7 linked regions of the Homo sapiens genome follow. The protein of the gene in region 4 purifies or fractionates together with the protein of the main gene of each other region. This does not show direct contact. Each region holds a gene or a part of one and is shown on either strand. Other genes may lie near its edges.

Region 1 (4,163 bases), 9.1 Mb from region 4:
TATTCATCTATAAGATGACTATCACGTTTCATAGAGTTGTTAAAGATTAAATGACGTAGCAGCACATATAAAGCACTAAATCACTTTATTAGATATATGTTTGGCACCAAGTAGGCACACAAGAAAGGGCAGCTTTTGTTTTTATTCAATAAATTTCTGACATCTTCTTACCTTTCAGTCCAGCTTATTACACTCTTGAGAAGGCGTGTGTGTGTTGTTGAATATAACAGTTCATTTTCCAGTCCTTAAGAAGAAAGTCACCAAGACCTGTTAAGTCTTTCCCCAAAATAACGTTTGAAATCCATCCATTTGTCTCTTATTGAGGCCTTCCTTATTTCTGTTTTCTATGCCTGTAAACTACAATAGCCTCCCATATTCATTCTCGCCTTCCTGTAATCCATCTGCCACACAGCAGCCAGAGAGGTCACTTCAAGACAGAAAAGTAGTGTGTCACTTGCCACCCTAAAGCCCTTCATGGGCTCCCCATTGCAATACAATCAAAACACCTTGATATGGCCTACAAGTCCTGTAGGCCCCGGCCGCTACCCACACTTCCATCTGTACCCATCGCTGAACTGCAGCTGCATGGGCTGACTCTTATGTCCCTCTAACTCCCTGGCCACTTCAGGACTTTCGCCCTTCCGCGGGTTCCCTCTGCCTCTTCTAATTGCTGCCTATATTGTTACTGAACCTTCAGGGCTCAGCTAGAGGGTCATTTACTCCAGAACTGCCTCTTCTTCTCTAGACAAGTTGGATCCCAGCCTTCTGTATTTTTCATTTTCCTTGCAGAGCACTTAGCATAATGCCACTAAGCTGTTTCTGTTATCGTGTTTCCTTTTGTCTCCTCCACTGGCCTGATTAGAGCAAGGCCTCCATCTCTTTTTCCTGCTATATCCTTGGCATCTGATATAATGGATACTCAGTAAATATTTGTAATAAATGATGTTCAAAATATTTACTAAGCTTTGTTTTATGTTGATACCTATTGGTAACCTTTTAAATACTTGAATAGTTGCTGTGTTCTACATTTGTTCAACCATAACTGCTCATTTCTTTGTTTTTCATTAGGAAAAATACCTCGAAGCAATCAAAATATTTTCTGGTCCATTGAAAGGAATAGAACTGGGTACGTCTTTGTCTGTGACTCATCCTCTGCTATTTCTAACTTATATATGCCCTGACCTCTCAAATTAGAATCCATTAAAAACATCAACATCAAACCTCAAAATCAAATGCTTCATCACCACGAGATTTTTTTTTTTTTTTTTTTTTTTGGATAGAGTCTTGCTTTCTTACCAGGCTGGAGTGCAGTGGCATGATCTCGGCTCACTGCAACCTCCACCTCCTGGGTTCAAGCCATTCTCCCACCTCAGCCTCCTGAGTAGCTAGGACTACAGGCGCATGCCATCACGCTCAGCTAATTTTTTGTATTTTTAGTAGAGACGGGGTTTCACCATGTTGGCCAGGATAGTCTCGATCTCTTGACCTTGTGATCTGCCCGCCTCAGCCTCCCAAAATGAGCTACCATGTGGCTGGAGATGGGATTTCTAAATAGTGACATTTTCTGTGTTCCCACCTCATGCTGTAAAAATAGGGGCCAGGTCGGCAGGAGTGATTGAACAGCTGATGCCTGCCTGTGTACATGCTGTGTGGCATTCTCCATCCAGACGGCAGGGCTCCTGCCTCAGTTCCAGAGGTGCTTCTCGTCGTTGAGTTGCTTTGAGTTGGGGGCGGGGGTGACAAGGGTTCCCTAGAGGTTTTGTGGCCAACTTTGTACATTGAAACGCAGCTCCAGCTGCGCAGGGGGGCTTACAGCCTCTTGATGGGAAGAGGCCTCACTGAGGATGCTAGTAGGGCTCTTGTCCTGGCACTGGTGTGTATCTGTGGCTTGTTAATACTCCTCTTTTATAGAAACACTAATACTTTGTTTCAAAATATACATCAGCTCTTCTGGTTTGCGATGATAGGTTCCCTGGCTTCACTATTCTGTTTGTTAACTTGGGTCTCTGAAAGTTGAGTACTAGTTTCTTGTTTTTCAATTTTTAACGGATAGTCACCAAAGATTATAATGTCTTTTCATCTGGCTGTAGTAAATATAAATGGCTGACCAAAATACACTTTTATTTATTTCCTAAAAATGGTAATCTCCTTAGAAAGTCTGGTTTTCGTGTCAGATTCCCACCATAATTCTGAGGCAATTCAGTTGCTCGTGGTTGGTGATCCTGAAGTTACTCTTCCCACACATCTTCACTAATGCAATCACTTTGCTGTTGTGTGGTTTTCTTGTAGCTGTGCGGCCCCACTCTGCCCCAGAATACGAGGATGAAACCATGACAGTTTACCAGATCCCCATACACAGTGAGTATGAAAGCCAGGTTTCCCAGGAGGAGGGTGTACGTCCTGAGTAAAGAAAACATGGATGAAAATAGAAACTGAACACTTGCTGTGGGCACCCTGTTTTGTGTTCTGAGCATGATTAGAAAATTTAGTTGAGGAATGAAGATATGGCTCCTGCCCTGGCTTATAAACTTACGGATGTCTGACTTATGCCTAATGATAGTGATTATGCTTTGGAATATTAGATAATCAAGCACTGTTGGTAAATAGATTGCATTCAAGTTTGCACATTCATTGCTTGGAGGTTTTTTCCCACAGGCGTAATACCCTCTTTTGATCAGACGATCATGAAGAGGTTTGCACAGATAGATTTTTTTAAATAAATAATGATTACAGCAACCTAAAAGAAGTGTTGTTGGGGGTTAGAAGCTCCTGCAAATTCCGAAGTATCAGGGCCAGATGATGTGGTCTTAGCTTAGGAAAAGAGTTAGTCTTGTCCTTGAACTTGGCTAAAGACATTCATGTCTGGTTTTACTTACATGTGAAGAGAGTACCAAGCAGTAGGGGTATTTCCTTGTTAGTACTAACTAATGTGATGCTTACTAAGTAGTGCTGATGGGTGACAGACCAGAGCACCCAGCAAAGGCCAGAGAAGTCCAGAACCTGGCGAGGAGATGAGGCTTACACTGACTGAAGGCAGAAGGCAGCAGGGAGGAGAGGAATGTGCCGGAGCAATGGCACAAGTGCTCCTAGGCCAGTGCTGTGATGAGCTGATCAGCACTCCCATTGCCTGGCTTGCTCCTCCTGCTCAGATGCCTTCTCTCACCTGACCCCTGCTGTAGCCACCCCCAGCCTGAGTTGCATCCACCTGTTTGTTGTCCATTTCCAGCACCCTGTTCTTCGCTCCATGGCATGTGACAGTTAACTTTCATATGTGATTTGCGTGATCGATGTTAACATGCTCAGTTTTGCCGATCACTGTTTTTTCAGTGTCCAGCGGCCCTCAGTGAGTGAACTTACGTTCATTCTCGTTGCAGCTGTGCTTTAGCTTCTTAGAGCAGCGAATTTTTTTCCCTTGATCTTGAGCCTTAACTAAATGTAAAATGAGGCTCCTTCTTGAGATAGGTACCCTTTGGGTCTATGTGTTTTAGCGGGAGTGATGATAATAAATAAGCATGTCTACAACCCACATGCTGTTTAGATAACACGTTGTTGAGTTGGTACTGTGGCCGAGGCTGTGAGCTAAGCAGAAACATAAACATTAATAGGACATAGGTGCAGCCCAGAAACCAGGTAGGAAGTTAACTAACTAGTTATTTCCTACTGTATAGTAAAAGGTGTGCTGATTTAATTGGCGTTCTGGCATTCCCATGTATGAACGTCTGGGCCTTGGCTGTCAGCTCACCTTGTGCAGTGTGTAATTTGGTGGTATCTGTACTGACCAGGTGAACAGAGGAGGGGAAAGCACCAACCATGGCAGAGTCCAGAAAGGCCTCTCAGCAGGCTCAGTCCAGAGCGATCTTCAGACTCCGAGTCGAATGAAAATGAGCCACACCTTCCACATGGTAATAGTATAAACAAAACAGAGCAGCAGAAAGGCTTGCGTTTTCTTAATTCTCTGCCTTGTAATGCTTGTAGAGAGTCATTATTGTAAGAAAGCCAGGTGTGTAAACAGATCCTTCTTCCTGGGCTTACTATAACTTGGCCCGTTGGGGGAATGAGAAGGGTTGTTGTAAAGGTGGCAGCCTGCAACTTTAATAATGACCAGTCCACAGTTTTGGCCACCCAGGGTCTGGGTAGGCCCAAAACTGTGTTCTGTTTTCCCA
Region 2 (4,163 bases), on a different chromosome or scaffold from region 4:
ATTCCTAGCACAGGCTGGATACTGCGGAGCTTCACAGAATGTCAGGGAGGAGTGACAGCATAGACCAGCTCCGGAGCTGTGTGGGTTTAGAGTGGAGGGTCACGGAGGGCTCTGCAGGATGGCCGTGCTTGTGTGCGTGCTGCAGGTTTAAGCTGTAGGTTGGGAACAGGTCCCTCTAGTTGTGTAAAGAGCTGTGAGGGTACCCCCATGATGCTGTGCCCGTGTTACCGTGTTGCTCACAATAGATGAGAATTAGAGGCTCCCAAGGCTAGTGTCAGTCACTTGACTCACGCCTTGTGTGTTCAAAAGCCCAGGGTCCATCAGAGTGCTGTTTACTGCGGGAAGTTGGGGCGTCCACAGGTTTTGATAGTTTGTTGTGTTTTTTCCTGAAGGAAGCAGAGGAATGGAGCGGACGGTCGTGATGGATAAATCGAAAGGAGAGCCCGTCATTAGCGTGAAAACCACAAGCAGGTCCAAAGAGAGAGTGAGTATTGCCTCTGCCATCTCAGGGCCAGCTGTTTCTCACGATGGCTCCACGGCCCGTTTGATCCGCATTATGAAAACAGCACTGTTTTGCCTTTAAAATTGAAGTTTGTAGGAGGCGCGATAATTGTGTAGATTGCGGATACAGACACACACATGAATCCTGGTGCTTTCTGCAGAGCAGTGCCCATCCGTGTTTGCTTCCCTTACTGGCTCCTGACCGGGATGTGCCGCCTTCAGACAGAGCATTGGTTCACACGGCAGCTCACCATAGGGTGGGATGGGCCAGACCCAGGCTTTTCGAGCCGGAAGGCAGGTCCTACTCTTTGGTTGACTTAATAGCAGGCTACTTTCTTCCATTGGTTTTTTAGTCTCCTATTAAATTAACCAAAAAGGTAGAGACCAACCTAGGACAGAGAGCTGGTCATGTTATCAGATCAAGAGCTGTACCTCTCGAGTTGTGCACACAACTAGACGAAATAGCGTCTCATTTGCGTTTTTCACTCTGGGAAACAATAAAAACCTCTGCTTCCCAGCTGCAGGTTCTAGCTAAGATATTCATGAGGTGACAGTACTTTTTTAACGAATGTGGAGTTCACCATATTCAGCCAGGACCACTTTGTGTTGTTAAGACTTAACTTTTTTTTTTTTTTTTTTTTGAGATGGAGTCTTGCTGTGTCACTCAGGCTGGAGTGCAGTGGCGTGATCTCTGCTCACTGCAACCACTGCCTCCTGGGTTCAAGCGACTCCTGCCTCAGCCTCTCGAGTAGCTGGGATTACAGGCAACAGGCACACATCACCACACCAGGCTAATTTTTTTACTTTTAGTAGAGACGGGATTTTGCCACGTTGGCCAGGCTGGTCTCGAACTCCTGACCTCAAGTGATCCACCCGCCTCAGCCTCCCAAAGTGCTGGGATTACAGGCTTGAGCCACCGTGCCCAACCAAGACTTAGTTTTTAAAATGAACATTTGGATTTTATAAAGTATCAGTTCCTAATGTCATTTTTCACATGAAAATCATAAGATACAGAGAAATGTAGAGTAGAACATTGAAAAAGACCCATACTCTTACCCCCATGTAACTGTGATGTTGAAAACAAGTAGTGATGACACATGCATGATTAGAACATCTGGTCAGCTTGAGGAGATGCAGCACGGGCATACTAAAGCCTCCGTGTGTCCAGTTGGGCTCCTCGGCTTCCTCTGCACACACGTCCCCTGTGCCTGCCATGGGACCACAGACAGAGGATGTGCTGGAGCTTGCACTTTCTGTGTAATATGCCTTGGAGGTCTCTACATACAGACACATACGGTTTGGCTTTTTTCCTTTTTGCTTTTTTTTCTTTTCGCTTTTACATATATTTTTTATTTTATGCATGATATTTACCTATTAAAAAAAATAAAGGGTGGGAGTGTCTCACTTTGTTGCTTAGCCTGGCTTCAAGTGATTCTCTCGCCTTGATCTTCCAAACTTGCTGGATTAGAGGTGTGCGCCACCACTCCCAGCCTCTTTTAACGTTTAAATTTTGAAATAAAGTGCTGTTCAGAAAGGTTGTGGAGGGGACTTAAATCTCCTGGGTGTGTTGCACCTGCCAGGTCGCTAGTAAGTGGCTAAGCTGGCCTGAGAACCCAGGAGTCCCGTGCTGACACTGTTGCCTGCTGTGCTGCCCACTGTGCGGTGGTATGTGGGCATCTGTCACCTTATTCTACTGCAGTGTGTGTAAGACATCTGCCCGTCTCGTAGGCAAAGCTTGCCATCAAAGTGCTGGGTGATGTGTGTCTCTCCTGTGTCTGTGTGCCCCTTTCTCCCCAGCCTGCATTTTATTAATAATTGGTGTAATGTCTCATCTTGACCTTTGCCTGTCTTTCTGTTGGGTTGGTTTGTTTTTCATTGCTCGCTCTTTCTCTCCTATGGGGGCTAATTAGGGAAATAAACTGAGTAGCTTTTTAAAAATGTCATTTCCCAGGCCCCTGCCCCAGAGATTCTGTGTGGATCAGCAGGAGGCCTCAGGTTCTGTGTTGTTTAAAAGCTTCCTGGGAGGGTCTGATGTGTAGCCAGTTTGGGTGAGGGGCCCTGGAGAACCTTGGAAATGGGAGTCAGTTGTTACAGCTCTGAGCTTTATGCCACAGATAGAAAATGATGAATGTAGGCTGGGTGCGGTGGCTCACACCTGTAATCCCGGCACTTTGGGAGGATGAAGCAGCAGATCACTTGAGCTCAGGAGTTTGAGACCAGCCTGGACAATAGGGCGAAACCCTGTCTCTACAAAAATAGAAAAATTAGTCAGGCATGGTGGTGTGCACCTGTGGTCTCAGCTACTGAGGAGGCTGAGGTGGGAGGATCACTTGATCCTGCAGTGAGCTGTGACTGAGCCACTGTACTCCAGGCTGGACAACAGAACAAGACTGGGTCTCAAACCCAAAAAACCTACAAAAAATAAATTACGGAAGTTGGCTATTAGTGTTCTGTACCTTATTAGGAGCACTGTTTTGCATTAAAGCATTTTGGCATATTCTCTTTATTTATTTGAGACGGAGTCCCGCTCTGTCACCCAGGCTGGAGTACAGTGGCGCAATCTCAGCTCACTGCCACCTCTGCTTCCCAGGTTCAAGCGATTCTTCTGCTTCAGCCTCTTAAGTAGCTGGGATTACAGGCATGCGCCACCACGCCTAGCTAATTTTTGTATTTTTAGTTGAGACGGGGTTTCACCATGTTGGTCAGGCTGGTCTCGAACTCCTGATGTTGTGATCCGCCCACCTTGGCCTCCTGAAATGCTGGGATTACAGGTGTGAGCCACTGCGCCCGGCCTGGCATATTCTATTTAGAGCTGTCTGCCTGAGTCCTGAGCCAGCAGTTGAGATGTGAAACATGTAGTCTGCCCTCCAGCTGTCCAAACAGCTGGCCTGACTGCTGTCCCCTCTGAACTAATGGCCACAGTGGCCCTGTGCGGATGTGCCCGTGGCTCTGAGAGGCCTAGGTTTGCTTTGGATTATGTGAGTCCTTGGCTGTGCTATGCTAGAAGAACTGTGCCTGTAGGTTTTCTGAGGCGTGGGCCAACCTCTTCTCTTCCATGAATGCCCCTTGACATCTGAAAGCAGGATTCTGGATTAGGCAGTAAAATGCAAACTTGGAGGGAAGCAGCCTATGCCTGGGCCTCTGGTCTGGAGACCACAGCCTTCCATCTACACCATGTGGGGCCAGAGAATCTTAGTCTCATGCACACGTGCATAATCTCCATTGTTTGTTTGTTGCAATCATTTTCCTGACATTAATAAACCAGTTTTGGTAAACAGAGCTCCAAGAGTCAGGATCGCAAGTCAGAAAGCAAAGAAAAGAGAGACATCTTGTCGTTTGATAAAATCAAAGAACAAAGGGAGAGAGAGCGCCAGAGGCAGCGGGAACGGGAGATCCGCGAAACGGAGAGGCGGCGGTGAGTGGAGCTGGGTGAGGCTGTGGGCTGGTGGTTTCCTCTCGGGGTGGCTGTCCTTCTCCCAGCTGTACTTGGAGTGCGCAGTCTGTGTGCCCGAGAGCCAGTGCCTGGGCTGGCGGGTGTCGTGCTTAACCTGGGTCCTCGAGGCAGGGGCCAGCACCTGTTCACACGTGAGCCGCCAGACATGCCAGGTGGCATGAAAGTCATCAAAGGGCCAGGTGCAGTGGCTCACACCTGTAATCCGAGC
Region 3 (4,163 bases), on a different chromosome or scaffold from region 4:
TTAAATCATTTATGAAGCGCCTCCCCAGCAACCACTTCCTGACCATCGGAAGCATCCATCAGCACTGGGGCAATGACTGGGACCTGCAGAACCGCTACAAGCTCCTGCAGAGTGCCACGGAGGCACAGAGACAAAAGATCCAACGCACTGCCCGCAAGCTTTTCGGCCTCAGTGTACGCTGTCGCCACAATCCCAACCACCAGCTGCCTAGAGAGAGGTAAGTGTTGCCACCACCTCCACCTCTGCAGGCACCTACCTGGCGTTAGCTACATTATCTTGCTGCAGAGTGAAATGCAATGCAGATGGTGCATTTGTGGGGTGGCAAACAGGACCTCGCATGGTCCAGACCAACAATTTTCTGGATTGCCTCTGGGTCCTCACCTACTGGCTCCACATTGTTTCAGATTCCACATTGTTTCCTGAATGTACCATGAATTTTCAGCCTCTGTGTTCTGTCTGATTCACCTGATTGAGGAGGGGAACACTAGCCCTGATAGTTATGTGGCATTATCCTGGCTGTTAAAAATATATTTCATATTTAATTTTAAAATTACTGAGCAAAGCCAATTTTAGCATCCCCATCTTAATGGTGAAAAAACTGGATTAACTAATTAATCATTCGCCACCTTATTTATGAGGTCCTTTGAGCAGAGCCAGGAGTGAGTGACACAAATAACAAAATGTAATACAAAATGTCAGGAGACACTTGCGGGGTCATTGAGTGCAGGGTCCTCACCTGAGAGAGTGTCACCTTCAGTGCCTGGCTACCTTGCTTGCCTCCCCTAGTTCCAGCCATGTCCTGGATATACCGGGTATTCTGCTAGATGGTGGAGAATACAGAGATGGACAAGACAGGGCCCATGCCTCCATAGAATTAGGGTTTACTACTCTCTCAGGGGCACAGAAGGAAGGAGCCAGGACTTGAATCCAGGTTTTTTGGACTCTATTCTTCCGGGGCATTTCTGATCTGCAGCTGGTAGTTCCTACTGTAGAGGTGCCTCCAGGGTTTCTAAAAGGGCATCACAAGACAGCAAAAGGGCAGGTTGGGGCTCTCTCTCCACCCTGCTTCAGACAGAGCAGCTCTGCTCTTATTTGTTGCATATTTGGGGGTTCTACCTTCAATTTAGTTCTAAGAAAAAGATCCACTCTTAAAAAGAACAAGTCCATTCACATTCACCTAGCATACCCTGTGTCAGTCACATATTTATATATATGATTGTTACCCTGTTGTACAAATCTGGAAATGGAAGCTGAGAGAGGTCAAGTAATTTGTCCAAAGCTACAGTGTAAATCAGTGGTTCTCACTTGGGGGTGACGTTTTCCCCAGGGGACATTTGAAAATATCTCAAGACAATTTTGAGTATCGTAGCAAGGGTTAGGGGTATTATTGCACAGGCAGTTCTCACAACAAAGAAATATGTGACTTCAAAAGTTGCTGGTGCTCAGGCTTAGCAATTCTGATGTAAGAGAGACAAGATGCCAGCTATTTTAGGTTGATGCAAAAGTCATCGTGGTTTTTGCCATTATTTTTTAAGTTTTGCCATTACTTTTAAGTAACAGCAAAAACCACGATGACTTTTGAACCAACTTTAATAAATCTATAAATCAAAATCTTATCTTCCTAACTAGTCTGTTCTACTGGCACTCAACATTTAACAACGGCAGTCTTCTACCACAGTCCATCCACCTAATTACCCCGATGAGGTGCACCCTTTTTTCTCTCGTTTTTCTTGCGTCAGAGCTAATGCTGCTATTCCCTCCATGAAGTCTTTCCTGATTGTACTAGCCAATACAGAAAGCTTCTTATTCTAGATTCCCACTAATCTAAAATCCTTTCCTTAGCATATTTCTCTCTCTTTCCCCCCTTATGAAACCTCCTCCTTGTACAGACATTCAAACTCATCTCTGTTTTCCCTATTCCCTCCAAATTTGAGCCCACTGCTTTGCATCTAGCTTGTGATAATTATATTGTTTTGTGGATCAAATAGAATTTCTTTTGCCAGTTTCTTGTTGCAATGCTGCTGAAGCAGGGACTAGAAAAGGTCACAAACTTACTTTCTTGTCGAGCACAACAGATGCTCAGACTGCTACCACGAGCAAGTCTCTGAAGAAGCTTCCTTTTAGATCCATCACACATCTGCCATGAGACCTGCATCGAGCACTGTGGGAAATTCAGAAATGCACACAGCGAACAGTGCTGTGGAAGATGTCTTGTAGAGCAGGAGTGGGGAGGGGTTCTTTTATCAATCAGACCCCATATGTATTAGTTTATGATGGTTGCCATAACTAAGTACCATGGACTCAGTTGCTTAAACAATAGAAATTTATTTTCTCATAGTTCTGGAGGCCAGAAGTCCAAGATCAAGGTGTCAGCAGGCTTGGTTTCTTCTGAGGCCCCTTTTTCTGGCTTGTGGATGGTTGTTTTTTTCTACCTGTGTTTCCACGTAGTCTTTCCTCTGTGTGCATCTGCGTCCTAATATCCTCTCTCTCTCTCTTTTTTTTTTTTTTTTTTTTTTGAGATGGAGTCTCGCTTTGTTGCCCAGGCTAGAGTGCAGTGTCGCTATCTTGGTTCACTGCAACCTCCGTCTCCCAGGTTCAAGCGATTCTCCTGCTCAGCCTCCCCTTGCGAGTAGCTGGGATTACAGGTGTGCACCACCACACCCAGCTAATTTTTGTATTTTTAGTAGAGACGGAGTTTTGCCGTATGGGCCAGGCTGGTCTCAAACTCTTGGCGTCAGGTGATCCACCCACCTCAGCCTCCCAAAGTGCTAGGATTATAGATATGAGCCACCATGCCCTGTGCTAATATCCTCTCTTAAGAGGATACCAGTTATATTGGATTAGAGCTGACCTAAATGGCCTCATGTTAACTTAATTACCACTTTAAAGACCCTGTCTCCAAACACAGTCACAGTTTGAGATCCTGGGGGCTAGGACTTTAACATATAAGTTTGGAGGGGTATGTAATTCAGCCCAGAATATTATAGGAGGTAGCTTTTGATCAGATCTTTAGGTGAAAAAGCTGTGCATCCCAAGGAGCAACGAAGCTCGATGCAAATCTGATTGAGGAGGGCCATGTTTGACCATGATAAGAATTCAAACAAATAACCTCTTTCAGTTACGGTGATTGTCATCTCAGAAAATGGAGAGTAAGATCCAAAGGTCCCAAAGACATTAGGCAGGCATATTTATTAAAGTTGAGTGAAATCTCCAGAACACCAAGCATCATCAGATATGCTAAGTTCAAGGGAAGACTCGAGAGGATTTTAGAAGGAGGGTAGCTGGATAGGTATTACAAGGGAAGAAGGAGGGACAAAGCTGGGTAATAGGAGTAACACTGGGAAAAGTCAAGGAGTCTGGATTTGTCCTACCACTAGTAAGCTGTGTGTCCTTGGGCAAGTCACTTCACCATGCTCAGTGCAGGTGTCTGCATCTTTGAATAAGTCTCTGCTCTCCTTCTGCAAGTCGTCAGGTGTAAATAGCTAAAAATGCTCTACCATCATGGGACCTTCAAAGAAAGAGCTCACAGTGTTGCCGTCTCTCCTACTAAGGAGGAGAAAACCTGCCCTAATCATCATATTCTTCTCACCTGGAGAGGATGTCTGGCGTTCCACCATTAGCAGGTCACTCAATTATATTAATTTGAGGAATTTTGAGTGCTAGGTACCGAGGGGTAGGAGCACACAGACACTAGGCTCTGTGGCTAATTCCTCTGAAGCCTTCCCAGGAGAGATGAACTTCCTTGGACGGGCTGTGGGCCGCTTCCTGACATCTGAATCTGAGGCTTTAATGAGTATTTCTCACACCGCAGGGCACCTCTCTGGCATGGAGCAGTGTCGGACAGAGGTGCTAACACTGGGAACCTTGGGCCACCTCTAGCTGAGCAAGCTGGTATTTGCAAATGAACTGATTGCATGGTTTCAATGTGTCTGCTTGCTGAAGTCTGTGGAAGATGAGTGTGCTGAGCAGGTGCCATTACTGCAGCAGGTGCCACAGAGATGTTTACTTGTCTCACAAACAGGTGGCTTTGTTAAGGTAAGGTGGGAGAGGGAAAGAGGGAACAAGCACAGGGCCTTAGCCACACATGGACTGGTCCGAATCCTGGCTCCATCACTTACCAGACACAGAGCTTTATGTAAGTCCTGCACCTCATTTGTGAAAGG
Region 4 (4,163 bases):
GGCGCGGTGGCTCACGCCTGTAATCCCAGCACTTTGGGAGGCCAAGGCGGGCAGATCACGAGGTCAGGAGATCGAGACCATCCTTGAAACCCCGACTCTACTAAAAATATAGAAAATTAGCTGGGCGTGGTGGCGGGCGCGTGTAGTCCCAGCTACTCGGGAGGCTGAGGCAGGAGAATGGTGTGAACCCGGGAGGTGGAGTTTGCCGTGAGCCGAGATCGCGCCACTGCACTCCAGCCTGGGCCACAGAGCGAGACTGCGTCTCAAAAAAAAAAAAAGAAGAAAAGAAAAGAAAGAAATACCGGGCGCGGTGGCTCACGCCTGGAATCCCAGCACTTTGGGAGGCCGAGGCGGGTGGATCACGAGGTCAGGAGATCGAGACCATCCTGGCTAATACGGCGAAACCCCACCTCTACTAAAAATACAAAAAAATTAGCCGGGCGCAGTGGTGGGCACCTGTAGTCCCAGCTACTGGGGAGGCCGAGGCAGGAGAATCGCTTGAACCTGGGAGGTGGAGGTTGTAGTGAGCCAAGATCACGCCATTGCACTCCAGCCTGGTTGACAGAACGAGACTCCATCTCAAAAAAAAAAAGAAAGAAATAGATGGCCCTTGCTCAGCGGCAGCAGTCACCGTGACTGGAAGAAGCATTTCATTCCGTCCAGACAGTTACTGAGCTTCCGTTCTCCAGGCACTGCACAAGGTGCCGAGGACAAGGCAGGGGAACGGCCTGGGCAGCCTTTGGATTGGAGGAGTGGCCCCAAAGCCCACGTATCAGTTAGGCGGCGCCTGCGTCTCCCCCAGAGCCCACGTATCAGTTAGGCAGCACCTGTGTCTCCCCCAGAGCCCACATATCAGTTAGATGGGCCTGCGTCTCCCCCAGCGCCCGCGTATCAATCAGGCAGTGCCTGCGTCTCCCCCAGATCCTGTGTATCAGTTAGACGGTGCCTGCATCTCCCCCGTGCCCACGTATCAGTTAGACGGCGCCTGCTTCTCCCCCAGAGCCCACGTATCAGTTAGACGGCGCCTGCTTCTCCCCCAGAGCCCACGTATCAGTTAGACGGCGCCTGCTTCTCCCCCAGAGCCCACGTATCAGTTAGACGGCGCCTGCTTCTCCCCCAGAGCCCACGTATCAGTTAGACGGCGCCTGCTTCTCCCCCAGAGCCCACGTATCAGTTAGACTGCGCCTGCTTCTCCCCCAGATCCTGTGTATCAGTTAGACGGCGCCTGCTTCTCCCCCAGAGCCCGCGTATCAGTTAGACGGTGCCTGCATCTCCCCCAGATCCTGCGTATCCATTAGACAGTGCCTGTGTCTCCCCTAGTGCCCGCTCACATTTCGGTTTTGCTCCTCTTCCTCTGCTCAGCTTCTGTGTTGGCACTTGGAAGTGATTCACATAGTCCCCCGTGGCCACCTGGGGCCACTGAGAGCCCTGCCCTGCCCCTGCCTGACAGTCAAGTGAGTCAGGGCAAGCACAAGGCCAGGAGGAGAGCCAGGGCCACTGCCGTTGGCGGGGCCTGGCCTTGCACTTTATCCCCCTCTGCAGGGTCCCGGCCCAGCTGGGACCAGCTGGCTCAATCCCTGCCCCCTATGCTTACTTGACTCTGTGGGGTCGCTGGAACCAGGCAACTCCCACGGGGTCCCCATGACCACTTGCCTGATCTTAGCCACCATCTCCTCTCTCTCAGACCACTGGAACAACCTCCCACGCTGTCCCTTGCTTCTACTCTCACTCCCTGTCCCCCTGGTCAATGCTCAACTCAGCACCCAGCATGGTCCCAGTGGCATGAGTGTGTCACCTCCCAGCTCAGAGCCTGCTTCTCACTCGGGCTGCTGTGTCCCTCAGAATCAGACCTCCAGCCTGTGCCCCACCACCCGCCCTGTTTTTCTGCGGGGCTCGTGCACCGTCCCGCCATCATGCACTCGTCTCTGGCCACGTGCCATGGAAGGGGCTGCCCCAGAGCCTTCAGACTTCGCTTCCCTCTGCCCGGGGAGTCCCACCCCCGATGGCCACGGGACTCGCTCCCTCACTTCCTTCGGCTTTTTACGCCAGGGTCCCCTCCTAGAGAGAAGCGAGCCTTCCCTGACCCTGTAGCTTCAGCCTCCCCTGCTTCACACCTCATCGCCATTCCCTTGTTTTATTTTTTCCTTTCCACTTACTGACATACATAATTTACTGATTTTTCTTCTTTACTTATCGCCTGTCTCCCCCAACTAGAATATAAGCTGTATGATGGCTGGGCGCAGTGGCTCACGCCTGTAATCCCAGCACTTTGGGAGGCCAAGGCGGGAGGATCACTTGAGGTCAGGAGTTTGAGACCAGCCTGGCCAACATGCTGAAGCCCCGTCTCTTCTAAAAATACAAAAAATTAGCCGGGTGTGGTGGTGGACGCCTGTAATCCCAGCTATTCAGGAGACTGAGGCGGAAGGATCATTTGAAGCGGGGAGGCAGAGGTTGCAGTGAGCCGAGATTGTGCCACTGCACTCCAGCCCTGGGCAACAAGAGCAAAACTCCGTCTGAAAAAAAAAAAAGGCTATATGAGGGCAGGAATTCTGGCCTCAGTGTGGCCCCAGGGCCTAGAGTAGTGGCCAGCACCCAGTAGGCAGCCAGTGGTGACCAGTGTTGACGGGATGGATGGACACAAGCGAGGGAGTGAAGGGACTGGCAAGTGTGCCGCTGCCTCTCTGCATGCGTGTGAGTCGGCGTGTCTGTGGGCACGGCATGGAACCGTCCTTGTCACGGAGGAGGGACAAAGGCAGAGAGCCAGGCTGCGGCAGCTGTTCCCCTCCTGGCAGCCCCACTGACTGGGCCACCGGCTGCGGCTCAGCCGCTTCCCGGGCCGCCCTGCAGTAGCATCTTGGCATCTTCTCGGCGGCCGGAAGGCGGGAAGGATGGCACAGCATCCCTCCATGGCATTGCTGCCGTAGCGAGAAGGTATCTTCTAATGGACTCCCACTTCCAGCCCTGGCCCTCCCCACTCTTTCAGCCTGGCCTTGCGGACCCTTCATGGGCTGGTCCCGGCCCCCTCCTCATGTACCAGTGGCATCCGGCTCCTCACCATTCCAGGAATATGCCCCCAGCTGCCAGCGCCCCGTGTTCTTGCCTCTGCCATTTCATGCTGTGCTGATTGAGATGGGACCCGCACTGCGGCCCCCTTGGCAGCTGCTCTCGGGGAATCGGAGCAGAGGCTGCGTGTCTGGGAGCCTGGGACCTGTGCTCCTCACGCTGCCTTGTCCTCCTCAGATCCTGGTGAAGTCCATGCTGAGGAAGCGTTCCTTTGGGAACCCGTTTGAGCCCCAAGCACGGAGGGAAGAGCGATCCATGTCTGCTCCAGGAAACCTACTGGTGTAAGTACTGGTGGGCCAGGGACTGCCGGGCACTCCCTGGAGTTGGGTGGGGAGGTCTGAGGCCCATCCTCCCACTCTCACTGTCGTTGGGCCAAGGCCAGAGCCTGGGGACTTGGCCAGGTCTCGGTGTTGGCCCCATTTGCATCTCTGTCCCCAAGGTTAGTCGGGGCTAGAAGGGACCTTTTGGGCCCAGCTCTTGCTTCATTCCTGGGGCCAGCATCCCTCACACACACACTTCCAGGGATGAGGAGCTCACGCAGCCCCTCCATGGGACAGGAAGACCCTTCTTCCATGCAGCTTGATGTCACTCTCTCACTGGGTCCAGCCCCTCTGGGGCTTCAAATCTGTGGCCCCCTCAGCCCTTGGCAGCCTGGCAGAGGTTTGCAGACAGGCTGATGTTGGCTTCCTGTAGGAGGCTGGCGGGCTGTAGAGGAGGGGTGCTGGCCCCTCTGCCTGGCCCTGGGGACTGTTGGCTGCTCTCCCAAGTGGCCCAGGCTGCCTGCAGCCATTGCTGGGGCTCTGTGCCCAGTCAGCACTTTGTGAGTGCTTGTTCAGTGAGTAAGCAGGGACAGGCTGGCCGGTGGACCACGGGAGAGGAACCCGCATTGGCCGAGGGCTCCCTATGGTGAGCCACGCCTGTGGGTTCACCACCTCCTAGGAGGGTCCAGAAAAGCAGCTCCCCAAGCCTGTGCGCCTCGTCCTCAGCAGATCCACCTTCTTCACTATAATAAAAGCCAGTCTGGGATGCTAATAAGGCCTGTGCTGGAGTTTGTACACAAACCTGCAGAGAGAAAACCAGTGGGGTCCTGAACCACAGCG
Region 5 (4,163 bases), on a different chromosome or scaffold from region 4:
CTCAATTTAGAAATGTTTCTGAAAACAGGGAAGATATGGGGCCCTGCAGAGTGCCCAGCAGAATAAGCCCATTAATCAGTTAATGCCTGCTGAATATCTATTAAAAATGCTCAATTGAGCAACACTTCCAATTCTACTTCAACCATCTTCTGACAAGGCACCTTTACTTCTTCAACCCCTTCTTTCTATATCAAGTCACATTTGGATTTTACTAACGTTTACTATTTCTTTATGAAAATATGCTGCCTACGAGATGATCTGCTCTTTCATTCAAAGCTTACCTTCTTCCAAATTTCTTACACTCAAAAGGAACTTTAAAAAAAAGTAGAAAATATAAAAGTAATGACCCAGGTCAATAGTTTATGTTTGGTGATCAATAGAAGTAGTTTGCTTTAAAGCTAAGCAAGTTAGTGCTATTTGCTAAAAATATAGTAGCAGTTAGTTTTGAGTAAGAGGGATGCTGACCCACCAACTTCAAAGCCAGCTCACCTACAAACAGGTGCACAGGCTGCAGAAGTTTCAAGGTTCACAAAGCACCATAGTTCTTGAGATACAGTTGAAAAACTGTTCTGGGGACTGGTGAATAGTAAAGAAGAAAGACTATGAAACCATACTGCCTGCATTCAAATCGCAGCTCTACCATTTATTCACTATGTGGCCTGGCAGTTTCTTGGCCTTTCTATGCCTCAGTTTCCTCATCTGAAATATGAAAACAGTAATAAGCATGCCCACCTCACAGAGCTTTTGTGATATAATTACATGACTTCATGCATATAAAAGCACTTAGAACAATGCCTGGCACAGAAAGTATTACTCCTCACTCTGAATTCATAAATTGGACAGAACATCAATGGAAGCTGGAGTCCTTAAGTTCAAGAAAATATGTTTAAGAATTCTTAAATAAAAGAAGTAAACTAACCCATGAAAAATACCAGAAGTAGACATTTTGCAAAGACAGGGTTAAAAAAAAAAAAAAGTCAAGTTACTGAGTAAAACAGTAATGCCGATGTACTTATATGCTGTTAGGTCCAGAACAAACAGAATTTACAGACATTAATCAATCATGTTAAAACTTGAACCTCAACAGGAGTAAAGGAATAGCTTCATGACAAAATGATGAGGATGATGACCAAAATGACCGTAGCTAATAACATCTAACTCCAATTAAATGCTTACCATACTCCAGACTACCGAACGCTTTACATGCATTAAAACTAGCACAACCCTATGAGGCACATATTACTATTACAAAATAGAGGTACGGAGAGATCAGGAAACTCACAGAAGGTCACACAGCTAGTACCAAAGCCAGGATTCAAACCAACTGTCTGACTGCAAAGCCTATACTCTTAAGCTGCAGTACAATCCATACTTAACAACAGATCTTACGGTTACTTTAAAATTCTAGAGAAACTCCTACTAAAATATTTCTGAAGGTACTCTATTAACTGAATTAACTAGATGTATTAAAAATCCCTTGCCTCTATTCATTCAGAAGCACACACTGACAACTAAGAAGGCACTAAGCTTAGAGCTGGGGATAAAATGAAAAGATTCAATCTCTGCCCTTGGTAAGAAGCATCCTCTACAAATTAGCAGAAATCATAAGCTAAATTTAATGAAGCCAGACAAACCTGAGTAGCTTTGTGTTTCAGCTGGTTGCAGAAAGCCCTCACATCAAATTCTGATGACTCTTCTGTGGAGGTGGAAAAATTGCAGATACAAAACCTTAGGCATACTATTTTCAAATCTACAACAAATTCTTAAGTGCATGACATTTCTTGCCAAATTACCACAAAATAAAGGAATAAAGCAAGCAAATAACTAGGAAGCAACTACAGAAACAAATAAACAACTTAAAGTACTCAAGCTTAGAAAGCACAGGTATTACCATACCTCTCTAATCAATATGAGTCAAAATTAAGATGTGAGATGTTGAATTTCTTTCTATGCAATGCATGACTATTACTTTCAAAAGGTTTCTTTTTATTTGTTTTTTGTTTTACTAGAGTATGTGCTGTATCAAAGCAAATTACCTTTGAAGACTCTCTTATTCTTTACTGGCTGTCCAAGATCCACATTATTCTGTACATTGATCTTCATTTGTTTAGCTTTTTTTGAAATTCCAAGCAAGGTTTCTTCACTGGCTCTTGGTGACTGCTCATTTATTAAAAACAGTTTATTTAGCAATTTATTTATTCCTTTAGCTGCAAAAGCTATAGGCATTTTTTTCTTAAAGGCTTCAAAATATGGCTGTCCTAAAAATTCAGTGATATCAGAAGGAAAGGTAAAATCTTTGAAGTAAGGCATTGGTTGAATCCTAGCGACCTCTTGAAGCAATCCAAACAAAGGCTCATATAACAAAATCAACCTTTTTAAGACACCTTTATAGAGAACCCTAGAGAAAGAAATAGGAGCTCATTAATTAGCCAGTAATTACAATTTGCAGATTACATAATAAACTGCAAGATTGAAAGCTGAAAATAAATGGCTATCAAGGTCCTCCAGTACAGATAAAAAACACTATAGTGCACACTTGCGAACAGCCAGATTAGTCCAACCCAACAGAAAAATCCAAGTATAAAATGTTACTCAAAAAACTGTAAGACAGTCTACCAGGAAAGATATATATATATTCAAAAAGTACTACATGGAGAAATGTACAAAAGGATGCATATCAAAGTTTTAAGTGTGGTAGATGGTGAGATTTTAGGCAAATTTCAGGTTCTTCACATTTCTCTTTTTAAATTTCTTAAAACAGGCATGTATTATAATCAGCAAAAATTAAAGCTATTTTCATTACAGAAGAGAGTATCAAAGGTTTAGCATTTTAAAATAATATGATTAGTAATCAAACATTGTTACCTCTGATTAAGAATAAGTAGAATAAAAAATAAAACAATAGGAAATACTATTTGAGATATCCAGGTTAAGATATCAAAGCAAGGTTTTCAATCTCTAAACACAGAAACTTTTTTTCTTTTCTCCATCCAATGTTTTCTTACATTCATATTAGAACTAATAATCTTAATTGTTTGAAATGGCCCAAAACAGGCCTTCTTACAGATACGGGCAAATTCTAATTATCCATCAGATCAGTTTCACAATATGTACTGAGAGACATGAAAGAGATGTCTCTTTAGTTTCCAAGTATTACCAGCATACATCAACTAAATATGCTCAAAAAAGCAGTGGTGTTTGAGATGGAAGAAAATAGTCTAGCACATAAGAAGGTCAAAAATTGCATTTATCATTGCCATTAAAAATTAGAAACCGAGTGACAGAAAGAATCAAGTGATACAGCCAGCCCAGGATTAGCATCATTTTAAACGGCCTGTTGCAATATGACTACTACCAACAATTTTTTATTACTGCAATTCCCAGTCACAGGCATTAATTTTTTTAATGTTCAGTAAAAGCCCACTGATGTTTCACTACAACCTACCATGACCCAGATTTCAGTGTGACACCAGTCACTCCCGATTTTTTTAGTTGTTCAGTGATTGGGCTGATCTTGTGGATTGAGATACAAAGCCTACTCCTTTGATACAGCCATCAGCACTCGGCTTCCCAATCTACCCTCAAAAAACTCTGATCAAACCAAGAAAGAGAATACCTGCACCTTCCATAACCCCATAAGAAAATAAGTTTGAAAACTACTAATAAGAAACCTAGGCTGAAAGGAGATGAGAAAGAAATGAAGGATGTCAGAGGTATGTACATACCATAACCTGCTCACCAGCCCAACCATCACAAGGTTTAAAATAATGAACTCTTGCAAACCTAGATGTTTCACAGTCAAACTGGAAAATCAATTTAAGGTAGAAAACAAAATCAAAGTAATGTGGGTTTTGTAAGTTACAATCATGAATGAAGAAATATATTGGAAGTAAAGAGAATTTTCTTAAAGGTATTAAAGCCTTAAAACACATTCTATTTAAGAATTTAAAACTTTAAAATATGGTTATAAACACTCTGCTAGAGTTCCCATTATTAAATTTAGTTCTTAAAGTTTAGTTTCTAAGATTAAGAATTTCTAGCTATCAATGCTCTTAGGATAATACGTGCTGAACAGTGACAGGCAGTCTCTGGCAATGGCTGCATCAGGCAATTCCTGAGAAAAGGAGGCCAAGAAGCAAAAGTTTAAGAATTCCTGTAGGTTG
Region 6 (4,163 bases), on a different chromosome or scaffold from region 4:
AAAACAAAACAAAACAAAACAAAACAACAAAAAACTTACAGAGGACATTTTTTATTGTTGTTACAGAATGTCATACCCAGGCTATCCCCCAACAGGCTACCCACCTTTCCCTGGATATCCTGTAAGTATTGCCACTTAATACCTCACATCCTTAAAACAGGTGTTGTTTGGGACTGGCCCATGTCAGATCTTACAGATATGCTTGAGCAGGGGTCATAAATTCAGATGCTCAGAGGTACTACGTAGAAGTGAGGAAAGGCAATTGTGTGGGGGACTAGAGAGGTCTTGCTTTGTCTATTGAAAGCTGGCAGGTGCTTAGCACCAGCCCTGTGTAGCCATGGAGGGAGGCACACTCAGCGTTGCTAGATACTCCAGCCCTTCAAGTAAAGCCAGAAACTTGGGTTCTATGTGAAATTGCCCAAAGGTTCAAAATTTAGGAGTTAGTTTTAAAAAATGTTAACTGCTGTATGAGCCAGTAAAACATGGATGTAAGCAAAATCCATCCCATGAATCACTGGTTCTTTTTCTTTTTTTTAATGCCCTTGAGTCATAATATCACTGCATCTTAACCTTTGTGTTAGAATGTTTAAAATAATTAACGGCTTGGCTAGACCCAGAGATAAATTGCAGTGGATTTGTAGTTCTTAGACTTGGAGTACGTTTTATAAATGTGCTACTAAGTTCCACCTTGTTGATAGCTATACTACTCTGAGGACTAAGAGCTGAGCCATAAGTAAGAATTGTGCGTTTCAGTTTTTGTTTGTTTGTTTGTTTGTGTTTTTGAGATGGAGTCTCGCTGTGCGCCCAGGCTGGAGTGCAGTGGTGTGATCTCAGCTCACTGCAACTTATGCCTCCTGGGTTCAAGTGATTCTCCTGCCTCAGCCTCCCGAGTAGCTAGGATTTCAGGTGCCCGCCACTGTGCCTGGCTGATTTTTTGTATTTTTAGTAGAGACGGAATTTCACCATGTTGGCCAGGCTTGTCTCAAACTCCTGACCTCAAATGATCTGCCCTCCTTGGCCTCCCAAAGTGCTGGGATTATAGGCATGAGCCATTGCGCCTGGCCACATTTCAGTTTTTTGTTTTTGTTTTTGTTTTTGTTTTTGAGATGGAGTCTCGCTCTGTCACCAGGCTAGAGTGCAGTGGTGTGATCTCGACTCACTGCAACCTCCGTCTCCTGGGGTTCAAGCGATTCTCCTGCCTCAGCCTCCTGAGTAGCTGGGATTACAGGTACGTGCCACCACGCCCAGCTAGGTTTTGTATTTTTAGTAGAGATGGGGTTTCACAATGTTGGCCAGGATGGCCTCAATCTCCTGACCTCGTGATCCGCCCACCTCGGCCTCCCAAAGCGCTGGGATTACAGGCATGAGCCACTTAGCCCAGCCCACATTTTGGTTTTATACTCATAACTGTGGGGCTGCTATCTAACCCTGGGAGAATAGGAAGAGGGGTCTATACAAGTTTATGATAATATGTATCCTTATGCAAAGTGATTATATAGCTCTCGTGAATTTATCATAGGAGAGATGAGAATTATGGATATGTTCCCAAGTCCCTATGTATTAAACAGGACTGTAGTAACTATTTCAGTCAGTGTAGGCTAATTGCTAAAACAGACAACTCCCAAATCTCAGTGACTTAACACGATGAAAAAACAAATGTATTTCTTTCTTCAGTTTCCTGGACGTCAGTGGAGGATAGGGGGTGGGTGGGACGAGGCTTTGTTTCATGCAGTGTTTTGGGTTTCCAGGCTCCTTCCTTATTCTGATCCTACCATCCTTTAGCACTTTGGAGTCCTCCACTGGATCCTCTGCTTATGGGTGGCAGATGAAGGAAGAGAGAGAGCATGGAGGATTTGCCAGAGGTTTTTAGGGGACAGGTTTAGAAAGTGGTGTATCTCACTTTTGTCTATGTTCATTTACTGATATTCATTCATGTGGTTCGACCTAACTGCAAGGGGGTCTGGGAAGTGTAGTCTGTATAGCTTTGTGGCCTGGGGAGAAAGAGTTCAGTGAACATGCAACAATCTCTGCCACTCTGCATATTGCTGCTCTGAACCATGAAGTCCAAAATGTCACATCCGGTGTGTGATGTGATATACAGGTTACCTTTTTTATTTTTAAATATTATGTAACAGATCCAGATGTGTTGCAAGAAAGCCTCAAATTCCTCTGTTTAGGATATAGAGGAGGATCTTTCTCATATTTGTAGATGCTGGGAAAATGAAGGAACTGATGAGTTTTTTTTTTTTCTTAAAACCTTGAGGTTTGTAAAGAATCCTGTTCTGACTCCCAAATAGAGAAGCAGACCCCTCTTGCCTGACTCAAGTAGAATTAAATTTAACTGAATTCTGACAAACAAGTGTCCTTACAAACTGGTATACTGATAAACTAGTATAAGATACCAGGATTTCTAATGGGACTTTTAAAAAGTAAAAGAATGAGGTAGACCTTAATAATAACCTCTGTTTGTTCCTTATTTTTAGATGGGTCATATTTCTCTATGATCGTATTTGTTTAAAAATTATTCTGATTTTTCAGCCTGCAGGTCAGGAGTCATCTTTTCCCCCTTCTGGTCAGTATCCTTATCCTAGTGGCTTTCCTCCAATGGGAGGAGGTGCCTACCCACAAGTGCCAAGTAGTGGCTACCCAGGAGCTGGAGGCTACCCTGCGCCTGGAGGTTATCCAGCCCCTGGAGGCTATCCTGGTGCCCCACAGCCAGGGGGAGCTCCATCCTATCCCGGAGGTGAGTTACGGGTTGCGGAATTAGTAATGATTGGGATTGCTGTAGCACTTTTTCCTTCTCCCTTTATCCTCTTCATTCCTGCTTGTTTTGTATAAGGTCAAGTCGCTCTTAGGTAACCTTAGGTAGTAAGGACCTAGCTGGCAAGATGGAGGGATGAAGATTCTCTGGGGACATGAAAGCTGGGAGCAGTTTCAAAAATTCCACTGTGAAGGGACTTGGAATAAATTTCATGGCAATAAAGGACCAATATGTAACACTTTGCTTGTTTGTAGTCTTAAGACCTGATTAAGACATTTCAATTAGCAAGACTGTGACCTTTAGGTCAGCTTTATTCAAAGGTAAAAAAGACCCCAAAAAACAACAAAAAAACCTTAGCCCTTTTGTATTTTAAGTTAGTAGGGAAGAGTAATAAAGTAATATTTTGGCTGGGTGTGGTGTCTCACACCTGTAATCCCGACACTTTGGGAGGTTGAGGTGGGTGGATCACTTGAAGCAAGGAGTTCGAGACCAGCTTGGCCAACATGGTGAAACCCTGTCTCTACTAAAAATATGAAAATTAGCTGGGTGTGGTGGTGCATGCCTGTAATCCCACCTACCTGGGAGGCTGAGGCAGGAAAATCACTTGAACGTGGTAGGTAGAGTTTGCAGTGAGCCAAGATTGTGCCACTAAACTCCAGCCTAGGCAACAGAGTGAGACTGTCTCAAAAAATAAATAAATATATAAGGTAAAAATTTAAAAACTTATTTTTTACTGGAGAATTTGAAGTTTTGAATCTAGATAAACAGGGACTGCTATTATAGCATTAATAGCATATTTTTCCACTGTTAACAATAGATATTTTTCTAAAGTTTTTTCTGCAATCATGAGAACTGTACTATAGTTTATTGACATGTTCTTTTCTCTAGTTCCTCCAGGCCAAGGATTTGGAGTCCCACCAGGTGGAGCAGGCTTTTCTGGGTATCCACAGCCACCTTCACAGTCTTATGGAGGTGGTCCAGCACAGGTTCCACTACCTGGTAGGTACCAGCTGTCCAGAAAAAAACAGTATCATGATATTTTGAGTTTTTAAATCACCATTGAGGGAACTTAGTTTATATTTGAGATAATCTGCAATAAATGTTTATATTTCCATAAATAATTTTAAACATAATGGTTTTATGAAATATATTAAATTGATGGAAAAGTTTAATCAGTAAAATAGAGATAAAGTCACACTTTTTCTATTAAAAAAATCTGTCCCAAAGCCAAAAGGAAGCCTTCAGGAACTTCTCTGCCCACTCCTGTACCAATAGTAAAACCACCCCCAGAACTGTATTCTGACAACCATTCCAGGTGGACTCAGAATTTAATCTGATTCAAGTGTGAAAAAAGTATTATTTATGAGGATCTTATGTAGAACATGGAATATTAAAAAGGTTC
Region 7 (4,163 bases), on a different chromosome or scaffold from region 4:
TGTCTCAAAAAAATAAAAAAAAAGATTTAAGAGCAAGGTTGGTAGGCATGAGAGTTTGGTGCATAGAAACATGCAGCCAGAGAGAGGATATTAAAGCCTAAAATTCCAAAGGTATGTTCAGCAAGATATATGCCTGTGCTGGGCCATAAAACAAGTCTAAATACATTTAAGAAGACTGTGCAGCCATCATTCAAGTTAGTTTCAGAGCATATCCATCAGCTCCAATAGAAACCCCATGCCCACTTAACAGTCACGCTCCATTCCCACCCTCAGCCCTAGGCAACCAGTAAGCTACTATCTCTATGGATTTGCCTTTTCTGAACATTTCATATAAATGGAGTCATACAATACATAGCCTTTTAGTTTTGGCTTCTTTTACTTAGCATAATATTTTTCCAATTCATCTGGATTGTGGCATGTTATCAGTACTCCATTCCTTTTTATTGAGGAATCGTATGGATATACATGCTTTCTCCACTTGTCAGGTGATAGACATCTGAATTAATTCCAACTTACAGTTATTATAATACTGCTATAAACACTTGCATGTAAGTTTTTATGTGAACATGTTTTCCTTTCTCTTGTGTATATACCTAGGAGCGGAATTGCTGGGTTCTATGGTAATCTATGTTTAGCCCTTGAAGAAATTGCCAAACTATGCTCCCAAATGTACCTTCTTATCTTTCTACCAGCAATGTGGGAAGATTCCCTTTCCCCCATGTCCTTTCCAACATTGCCTATTGTCCTTCTTACTATTTAGCCATCTTGGTGAGTGTGAAGTAGTATTTCATTTTGGTTTTGACTTGCATTTCCCAAATGATTAATAATGTTGAACATTAATCAGCCACTAATTTTAGTTTATAATAGACATTTTACCAAAGAAGGTATACAAATGCAAATGTACTTAGCCATCTTATGCCTTCTTTGGTAAAATGTCTATTCAAGTTCTTTGCTCCTTTTGTGACTGGGCTGTTTGTCTATTATTGAATTGTAAGAATTCTTTACATATTCTAGATATAAGTCCTTTGTTAGATATATGATTTGAAAATTATTTTTCTCCCAGTTTGTGGCTTGGATTCTCATTTTCCTAATAATGCTTTTTGAAGAACAAATATTTTTAATTCTGATAAAGTCCAATTTATCAATTTTTGTTCTTTAAGGATAATGCCTTAGGTGTCAAATCTAAGAAGTCTTTGCCTAACCCAAGATCATGGAGATTTCTCTCCCTAGAGAGAAATTTTAGAAGTTTTATAGAGGAATTAAGTTACAAATTAATAATTACAAGATATTTTTACAAACCCAAAATATGTGGAAATTAAACAGCATACTTTTTTTGTTTGTTTGTTTTTGTTTTGTTTTTGAGACACAGTCTTGCTTTGTCACCCAGGCTGGAGTGCAGTGGCATGCTCTTGGCTCACTGCAGCCTCTGCCTTCCAGGTTCGAGAGATTCTCCCACCTCAGTCTCCCAAGTAGCTGAGATTACAGTTACTCACCACCACGCCTGGCTAATTTTTGTATTTTTAGTAGAAATGGGGTTCTGCCATGTTGCCCAGGCTGGTCTTGAACTCCTGGCCTCAGGTGATCCACCCGTCTCGGCCTCCCAAAGTGCTGGGATTTACAGGCATGAGCCACCACACCCAGTAAAACATACTTTTTAATAATCTATGGTTCAAAGAAGAAATCATATGGGAAAGTAGAAAATATTTCTAACAGGATGGCTGTGGTGGCTCACACTTGTAATCCTAGCACTTTTCGAGGCCAAGTTCACATAAAAACTTACATGCAAGTGTTTACAGCAGTATTATAATAACTATAATAACTATAAGTTGGAATGAATTCAGATGTCTATCCTAGCACTTTTCGAGACTTCATTTGAGGTCAGGAGTCCGAGATCAGCCTGGCCAACATGATGAAACCCCGTCTCCAATAAAAATAAAAAAAAAACAAAAAATAAAAAATAAAATAAAAATAATAAAAAAAATTAGCCAGGAGTGGTGGTGTGTGCCTGTAGTCCCCGCTACTCTGGAGGCTGAGGCAGGAGAATTGCTTGAGCCCGGGAGGCAGAGGTTGCAGTGAGCAGAGATCACACCACTGTACTCCAGCCTAGGTGACAGAGTCCATCTCAAAAAAAAAAAAAAAAAAGAAAATATTTCAAACAGAATAATGAAAATACATTTCAATAAATTTTAAACAAGCAACACATAAATAAATAAAAGGGCATTTTATTAAACACACACCATGTACATCTTTTGCCTTCTCCTCCTCCAGCTATTAACATAATTTTCTCCTCTTCTTCAGAATTAAATTTCTCAAAAAGAACGTTTATATTCAAGTATTCCTGTTCGTATTCCTTACCCTGGTCTTCTCTATAGAATGCAATCTGGCTGGGAGATGCTTCACTCCACTGGAACAAGGCTTACTGATTCCCAAGGGCCTCCTTGCTTCTAAAACCACCGAAGTGCTTCTGTCTTTATCTTATTTGTCCTCTTGGCAGCATAAATGCTGGTTTTCTTCCTACTTGTTTGGTCTCTCCTCTTCAGTCTTCATCATGTTTTTGTCCCTCAAACATCAGCCTTACGTCCTCTTTTCTTCCCTCTGCATCCTCTCTCCTTGAGAGACCTCATCCAGCCCATGTTTTCAACAATCATCTATACAACAATGATCTTCTACATACATTCCTGGCCCAGATCCCTGCCCTGAATTCCCAGCCTATAGATCCAACAACCCTCCTCCAATACTGTCTTTCCCAGCCATTCTCCAAGGCCTCTGCTATGGTCTGAATGTTTGTGTCCACCCAAAACTCATCTGTTAAAATTCTAGCCCCCATGTGATGGGTTAGGAGGTGGGGCCCCCTCTGGGAGGTGATTAGGTCATGAAGGTGGAGCCCTCATGAATGAAATTAGTGTCCTCATAAAAGAGACCCAAGAGAGCTCCTTTGCCCCTTCAGCCATGTAAGGACATAGAGGGTGCTGTCTATGATGAAGTAGACTCTCACCAGACAGCAAATCTACTGGTGCCCTGATATTGAAGACTTCCTAGCCTCCAGAACTGTGAGAAATAAATGCCTGTTGTTTATAAGCCACCCAGCTTATGGTATTTTGTTATAGCAGCCCAAATAGACTAAGGCAGCTTTTCAAACACAATTGGTCTAAATTCAAACTCATGACCCCCCTTTCTAAGCCTAAGTCCCCTTCTGAAGCTGCTTCTTTCAGCAAATGGTACCATTCTGCCCAGCTGCAAGCTTGAGACCTGAGTCATCCGAGACATATCCCTCTCCCCAAACCCTCCTGTCCAATCCATTGTCACAATTTATTGATCCAACTTTGAACATCTCTCAAATAGTTGATGTCATCTCCATCTTAGATACCACCATCCCAGTTTCTCAATGAGACTATGGTCCAGCCTCCTAGATGGTTTCCTCGAATCCATAAGTGTCCTTACCCAAACCATTCTGCACAATGGGGTCAGAGGAGCTTGTCAGATCACAGTCTTATCATGTCACTCTCCTGCTTCAATGGCTCTCAACACAAAGACAAAACTTTAACGTGGCCTATAAGGCCCGTCCCAATCTAGTCTCTACCTACTTTCCACACTTGACATTTTCCCCTCCAACCCCATGGCCTTTGCACAAGCTGTTACCTCTCCCAGGAACATGCTTTCTTCCCTTCTTGCCATGCTAATTCTTACTCATCCTTCATATCTCTGACAAGCATCACTATCTTAGGGAAGGCTTCCCTGACCTCCCTGACAAGGCAAAATGCACCAATTATTATCAACCCCATAGCCCTTCTTAGCATCCATCACAGCTATGGTTTTACTTTTTAATATGAGTCTGCCTCCCTCACTAGACTGAAAGTTCCATGAGGGAAAGGACCATGTTTGGTTTTATTCATGATTGTATCCTTAGTGCCTGGCACACACCTTGGGCACATAGTGGCCACAGAATGAGAAGTGTGTTGAATGAGTGATGGTAAGGTGATCTAGGATGAAAACAGGACATGAGGGAGAGGAGAAGGCGGTGAAGGAAGATATGCCAATGTCTTCAAACGACAAGGCGGAGTGACTGGGAAGTGAAAATGGATGAGGAAGAGTGGAGAAGCAGACAGCTTATGATAGAAGCCCCAGGGGTGTGGGGCTGGATGCAGGTGGGGATATTCTGGGAG

The links.
Region 1: the proteins of CAMKK1 (region 4) and ELAC2 purify together in Homo sapiens (affinity purification with mass spectrometry; one large-scale study listed by BioGRID and IntAct). This does not show direct contact.
Region 2: the proteins of CAMKK1 (region 4) and SAFB2 purify together in Homo sapiens (affinity purification with mass spectrometry; one large-scale study listed by BioGRID and IntAct). This does not show direct contact.
Region 3: the proteins of CAMKK1 (region 4) and BRINP1 purify together in Homo sapiens (affinity purification with mass spectrometry; one large-scale study listed by BioGRID and IntAct). This does not show direct contact.
Region 5: the proteins of CAMKK1 (region 4) and RMP64 purify together in Homo sapiens (affinity purification with mass spectrometry; one large-scale study listed by BioGRID and IntAct). This does not show direct contact.
Region 6: the proteins of CAMKK1 (region 4) and ANXA7 purify together in Homo sapiens (affinity purification with mass spectrometry, with the first as the bait; one large-scale study listed by BioGRID). This does not show direct contact.
Region 7: the proteins of CAMKK1 (region 4) and GLB1 purify together in Homo sapiens (affinity purification with mass spectrometry; one large-scale study listed by BioGRID and IntAct). This does not show direct contact.

What each region holds. Positions count from the first base shown.
Region 1 is NC_000017.11:13,011,402-13,015,564, reverse strand, and holds part of ELAC2 (zinc phosphodiesterase ELAC protein 2), read left to right. Parts: intron 1-1,068; coding exon 1,069-1,126; intron 1,127-2,289; coding exon 2,290-2,358; intron 2,359-3,782; coding exon 3,783-3,902; intron 3,903-4,163. UniProt on the Homo sapiens protein: Zinc phosphodiesterase, which displays mitochondrial tRNA 3'-processing endonuclease activity. Involved in tRNA maturation, by removing a 3'-trailer from precursor tRNA.
Region 2 is NC_000019.10:5,595,114-5,599,276, reverse strand, and holds part of SAFB2 (scaffold attachment factor B2), read left to right. Parts: intron 1-392; coding exon 393-484; intron 485-3,779; coding exon 3,780-3,916; intron 3,917-4,163. UniProt on the Homo sapiens protein: Binds to scaffold/matrix attachment region (S/MAR) DNA. Can function as an estrogen receptor corepressor and can also inhibit cell proliferation.
Region 3 is NC_000009.12:119,204,773-119,208,935, reverse strand, and holds part of BRINP1 (BMP/retinoic acid-inducible neural-specific protein 1 precursor), read left to right. Parts: coding exon 1-217; intron 218-4,163. UniProt on the Homo sapiens protein: Plays a role in neurogenesis and brain development. May suppress cell cycle progression in postmitotic neurons by inhibiting G1/S transition.
Region 4 is NC_000017.11:3,865,089-3,869,251, reverse strand, and holds part of CAMKK1 (calcium/calmodulin-dependent protein kinase kinase 1), read left to right. Parts: intron 1-3,240; coding exon 3,241-3,344; coding exon of another isoform or gene 3,345-3,348; exon of another isoform or gene 3,349-4,095; intron 4,096-4,163. UniProt on the Homo sapiens protein: Calcium/calmodulin-dependent protein kinase that belongs to a proposed calcium-triggered signaling cascade involved in a number of cellular processes. Phosphorylates CAMK1, CAMK1D, CAMK1G and CAMK4. Involved in regulating cell apoptosis.
Region 5 is NC_000003.12:113,009,009-113,013,171, forward strand, and holds part of RMP64 (nucleolus and neural progenitor protein), read right to left. Parts: intron 3,804-4,163; coding exon 3,726-3,803; intron 2,399-3,725; coding exon 2,037-2,398; intron 1,697-2,036; coding exon 1,635-1,696; intron 1-1,634. UniProt on the Homo sapiens protein: May play a role in cortex development as part of the Notch signaling pathway. Downstream of Notch may repress the expression of proneural genes and inhibit neuronal differentiation thereby maintaining neural progenitors.
Region 6 is NC_000010.11:73,396,761-73,400,923, reverse strand, and holds part of ANXA7 (annexin A7), read left to right. Parts: intron 1-66; 5' UTR 67-67; coding exon 68-121; intron 122-2,538; coding exon 2,539-2,743; intron 2,744-3,649; coding exon 3,650-3,760; intron 3,761-4,163. UniProt on the Homo sapiens protein: Calcium/phospholipid-binding protein which promotes membrane fusion and is involved in exocytosis.
Region 7 is NC_000003.12:33,009,515-33,013,677, forward strand, and holds part of GLB1 (beta-galactosidase isoform a preproprotein), read right to left. Parts: intron 1-4,163.